2 separate regions of the Homo sapiens genome follow, and region 2 is linked to region 1. A link means that fine-mapping ties the variant in region 1 to the expression of a gene that starts in the linked region. Tissue or cell type: T cells. Region 1 holds a variant in brackets; the other region holds the start of a gene. All regions are shown on one strand. Distances are from middle to middle.

Region 1 (2,628 bases):
CGCAGGCACCTTCTCTCCCCGGCCTCCCGGCGCTGGCCTCGCAGGCACCTTCTCTCCCCGGCCTCCCGGCGCCGGCCTCGCAGGCACCTTCTCTCCCCGGCCTCCTGGCGCCGGCCTCGCAGGCACCTTCTCTCCCCCGCCTCCTGGCGCCGGCCTCGCAGGCACCTTCTCTCCCCGGCCTCCTGGCACTGGCTTCGCAGGCACCTTCTCGGCACATCTCTCTCATTTCTTCTTCACTGGCTGACTCTGAACTGAGTGACCTGCATGGCCATCCTGAGAGGTGGGCCTCTGCCCGCACCTCCGCCCACCCCGCCCACCCATCCCTGCCCCGGAACCGGAGGAGCCTCAGCTTGTCCTGACGCTGCCATCTGAGGCCGTCTGCTTGCTTTCAGCGTATGCCTGTCTGAAGGTGCAGCCACAGCCACCCCAACGGTAAGAGCCAAGACTTACTGTAGTCCAGGCTGTAGAAGGCGAAGCCGCTCCCGGGGTAGAAAGAGCCTCTCTCCGTCACCGAGAAGCACTGCATCCTCGTGTTCACTTTCACCGTTTCCTGGATGGTGGTGTCTTCTCCGTTCAGCCAGTTCCAGCTCCTCATGCAGCCATCCAGACGAGGGTTTATCTGGAAAGGCAGAGAAATCTCCGTGGCTTCCTGGGAGCGAGAAGCCCCATGCCGGATGCCCCAGTCGGTGGGTGGCGCCTTCGCGGCCCTGGTATGTGCAGCTCTACGGCAGAAACGGGCCAGTCCCATCGGTGGTGGCCATTTCACAGAAGGTTTCTTCACTTTACACAACGCCTCACTGCAGAATACCTATTTCCACTGGTGTATGCTCAAGAACTAAAGGTTCATTTTAAAGCTAGGAAAGGACTGAAAAGGCCATGTGGGTCTAAGGTCAAAGAGTATGGATTGTTCAACCATCCAACACTCATGTGAATTATTCAATATTCAATATGGCTGTGGGCAAATCAGGGCAACCCCCTTATCTGTGAAACGAGGAGGGTCCAGCCAGGCAAAGTCCCGGCACCAGGCTGTCTGTGGGCCTGGGAAGCAGGTGCCCCTCACAACACCGAAGGTCCCGGCACCAGGCAGTCTGTGGGCCTGGGGAGCAGGTGCCCCTCACAACACTGAAGGGGTGGCTTCAGCACAGGCACTGCCGACACTCAGCACCCAAAGACGCGAAGACATGCGTGCCTTTCTCCTGCCTGGTGTGGAAGTGAAAATACCCAGGATGACGGCTTAGACGTCAGCACGTGGGGGCTGGAGACACAGGTCGGGGGCACGGGCGTGTGCTGTGCTGAAG[G/C]GGAGAGAAGGCGGGACCTGGAGCAATGGCCCACACTGACCGCCCATCATGGCTGTTTTCCCCTTATGAGACTCACGGCAGAGTTACAAAACCCAAAATGTTCTTGGAAATTGTCCAAAAAAGTTTACTGTTCTGTTAAAGAATAATTTCGGCCGGGCGCGGTGGCTCACGCCTGTAATCCCAGCACTTTGGGAGGCCGAGGTGGGCAGTTCACGAGGTCAGAAGATCGAGACCACGGCGAAACCCCGTCTCTACTAAAAATACAAAAAAATTAGCCGGACGTGGTGGCGGGCGCCTGTAGTCCCAGCTGCCTGGGAGGCTGAGGCAGGAGAATGGCGTGAACCCGGGAGGCGGAGCTTGCAGTGAGCCGAGATCGCGCCACTGCACTCCAGCCTGGGCAACAGAGCAAGACTCCGTCTCAAAAAAAATAATAATAATTTAATTGTGTCTTATCTCCATTGAAAAATAGACAACTTTATTATCAATTCAGATGAAAACTTAGGTCTCATAAAAAGAGATGGTAAAATTAATGACATAGCTGTACGGCGACTTTGTCAAACTCTAGGAAACCTTTCCTTCCTCTAGGTCCTCCTCACACCTGGTTAATGGTAAACACAGGGCAGGGTGTGACTGAGGCTTCCTGACACCGTTCCCGGGATCCCAGCACACGGCGCGTCTACACAGGGACAGGTACAGTACTCACAGGCTGCACGAGGTCCTTCTCATGGAAGGGAATACCTCCCACGGTCAGGTTCAGATGATACAGTCCTCGCTCCGGTTGGAACAAGTCCCCGGCCACCGCGATTTTCATGACAGCATCCCTGTTGACCTTGATGACCAGATTCCGCGCCAGCTCCTCAACAGAGATCTGAAGAGAGGCAGCGCCATGAGAAAAGATGGGAGTGCACGTTCTGAAGGGGCTCCCAACTGAGAAAAACCACACTCATCCTCTCCTGAGCCAAGAGGGTCCCGACCTCGGGGAGGCCACCTGATCCTCACCTGGGCCAAGAGGGTCCCAACCTCAGGGAGACCACCTGATCCTCCCCTGAGCCAAGAGGGTCCCGATCTCAGGGAGACCACCTGATCCTCCCCTGAGCCAAGAGGGTCCCGACCTCAGGGAGACCACCTGATCCTCCCCTGAGCCAAGAGGGTCCCGATCTCAGGGAGACCACCTGATCCTCACCTGGGCCAAGAGGGTCTCAATCTCAGGCAGACCACATGATCCTCACCTGGGCCAAGAGGGTCCCGATCTCAGGGAGGCCACCTGATCCTCACCTGGGCCAAGAGGGTCCCGACCTCAGGGAGACCACCTGATCCTCCCCTGAGCCAA
Region 2 (2,699 bases), 36 kb after region 1:
GCGACCAAGCTAGGCTGAGCTGAAGGAGGGCACGGGCCTGTGGGGCTGTGGGCAGCCCCCGGGCAACAGCCCCAGGTGCGTCATCTCTGCAGGGATGAGCTATGTCCACAAGTGCACAGTGGCCATCTGACAGCCTCAGAGCTTTCAGAAAGGCAGATCTAAGAGGGGTCAAGTCAACCACTAGAAATGTAAGCGGAAACAGGCCTCCATGGTTCATCCAGAACCACTCTTTCATCCCGGGTGACATTTATTCCACCCCAGGAGAATTCTTTAAAAGGAACATTCCAGCAGAACGGAAAACTTCGCTATGAAATCACCCTGACTTCAGGGCGGGAGGGACGTCAACGGGAATCCACACCTTCTCGGACTTTCCAAAGTCACCCGCTCCCGAGCCCGCAGGATAGAGTGGCCAGGCCGTCCTCACACGGCGGCTCCTGCGGGAGGCGGCCCCGGGCGCCCCGCCTTCTCCAAGGACATTCCTAACCGAGGTGCCGGGGCCAGCACCGTCGGGCTCCTGAAAGCACCCGCTGCCTCCAGGAGAGCACCTGGCAGAACGGGGCCGCGGAGCCGCCCTCCCCTCCCGCATGCGGCCCCGCTCGATTCCTGGAATCTTATTTTTGGACCTGCTGCCGCAAGCAGTTCCCGCCCTCGGCCCTTTCAATTCCTCTTTCGGGAGGGGACTGCTCTCCACCCCTCTCAGGAGGACGAGGCGCGGCCCGGGGGTTCCTCACCTCCAGCCCAGCAGAGGGAGGGCCGCGGGGAAGCGGTTTGGGTTTTAACCATTGTGTTTCTCTCGCACTTTGGAAACGGACTCCCGGCTTCCCCGCGGGGAGGCGTCTGACAGCGAGCGTTTCCCGGACAGCCCCGCAGCGTCTCACCGGCCTGCGCGGGGATCCCGGGGTCGCCGGGGGATGGGCGTGGGGGACGCGGGGCGGGCCGGGGCTCCTGGGACCCTGAGGCCAGGCCTCGCCGCGCGGAGCTGGGGGGCGGCAGCAGCGCTGCCTCTCGGGAGCGGTTGGAGGCGCGCGGGCGCCAGGGGTTCCCCCGCATCCCGCCCGCCGGCTGCTCACCGTCTCGGGGTCGTTCTCGAACACCTCCCGCGCCTCCTCGCGGCTGCACAGCTCCTCCACGCACTCCCTCTCCAGGTGGCCCTGCTTGGCCTCCTCGAAGACCTGAAAGGCGCGGCGCTGCCTGGGCCGCAGGAACTGCGTGGCCTCGCGCGCCGGCAACAGCGCGGCTGCCCGGAGGGAGAGAGGGGGACGCGTCAAGCCGCGCCCGGAGCCTCCTCCCGCCGCCCGGGGACGGGGTCTCGGGCCCGCGGGACTCACCAAGCGCGCACTCCGCGGCCAGCAGCAGCAGCAGCAGCTGCGGCGCGCGGCGCAGGGCGGCGGGCCCGGGCGAGAGCGAAGGGGCCATGGCGGGCCGGGGACGCGCGGTCAGAGCGCCCGGGAGGCCGAGGCGAGCCGCGGGCGCCGCGGGGCGGAGGCTCCGGTCATCCCGTCCTGGCGGCCCTGAAGGTCACATCGCGGCGGCGGCGGCGGCGGCGGCTGCGGCACCTCAAGCGCTCGGTCTGGGCGTGTTCGGGCGGCTGCGCGCGGGGAGGCGGCGGGGGCGGGACCAGCGCGCGGGCGGGGCGCGGGTTCCCGGGAGGATCCGGGCGCGGGGAAAGCGGAGCGTCCGGGACGCGGCGGGACTCGAGTGTTTCGGAAAAGGAGCGTCTCCCCAGGCGGTGGTTGTCTTCACTAGCGATGGGGTAAAAGGAGGACGCAATACCTGGTTCAACTTGAGCAGGTACATTTTGACCATATTCCAGGTGTCATGTGAAGATTTAAGCCTCTTTCCAACCCCCACTCCCCCCGAATCTACTGCATCCTTTTTGGAGTCTTCATTCTTAGGCACATTTTGTCAAGACTTAAAACCTACCAAAGAAAAGATACACTGAGGTCAGATCCAATCCCACTGGGGGCCAGCGAGTGAAATGCGACGGTTTCCTTTTATAATCTCTGTTTTTCATAATGATGACATTAAAAATCTTGAGGTTTCCCAGTAGATATTTAAGCTGAAAGCAACATTGTGCTTGTCTTCAGAGACCAAGACTTTCTGGCTCTTGTCTTGGAATATTTCGCAAAGTCATAGGCAAAACACACACAAACAAACAGAACCAAAACACAGCAGACCACTCACGGGGGACCGAACCAGGCAGTTAGCCCAGCATCCCCCTGCTGCGGGAGGAGGGAGCTTGGATACTCCTCTCTGGAGAATCCTGCTCTGGAAATCCCCACACCCCAAAATGCAATGTAGAGGGGCAGTGAGTCAGCACCTCACCCCAAATGAATGGCCGTTCTGCTCAGCAGGCTCAACGCTTAGATCCCCAGATCCAGTTTCTCTTTGCTTTCTGTAATTGGAAGAATGGAATAGGATTGCTGCTAGAAATCTTTGAGGTCACTGGTTTGAAAGTGGGATTATGAGCATGAATTTTTGTTGTTGTTGTTTGTTTGTTTTCAGACGGAGTCTCGCTATGTTGCCCAGGCTGGGGTGCAGTGGCGTGATCTCTGCTCACTGCAAGCTCCGCCTCCCGGGTTCACGCCATTCTCCTGCCTCAGCCTCCCGAGTAGCTGGGACCACAGGCGCCCGCCACCACGCCCGGCTGATTTTTTTTATTTTTAGTAGAGACGGGGTTTCACCGTGTTAGCCAGGAT

What was found. PIP is the estimated chance that this variant, and not a neighbour inherited with it, causes the effect.
Region 2: it holds the start of GAS6, and the variant in region 1 is fine-mapped to the expression of GAS6 in T cells (TOPMed, PIP above 0.99).

The regions. Positions count from the first base shown.
Region 1 is chr13:113,826,546-113,829,173 of GRCh38, forward strand. GAS6 (growth arrest specific 6) reads right to left here. Exons shown (of 15, transcript NM_000820.4): 11 at 2,002-2,166; 12 at 451-619. All of the region lies in intron 1 of GAS6-AS1 (GAS6 antisense RNA 1), which reads left to right. Among named protein-coding and RNA genes, the nearest start is that of GAS6-AS1, 12 kb to the left of the region's middle. The variant G/C (reference allele first, on the strand shown) is at 1,299.
Region 2 is chr13:113,862,505-113,865,203 of GRCh38, forward strand. GAS6 (growth arrest specific 6) reads right to left here and starts at 1,572. Exons shown (of 15, transcript NM_000820.4): 1 at 1,329-1,572; 2 at 1,071-1,237. The coding sequence starts at 1,416. It overlaps GAS6-DT (GAS6 divergent transcript), which reads left to right and starts at 1,673. Exons shown (of 2, transcript NR_044993.1): 1 at 1,673-1,791; 2 at 2,506-2,699. RefSeq lists silencers at 596-645, 1,126-1,185, 1,206-1,265 and an enhancer at 986-1,577.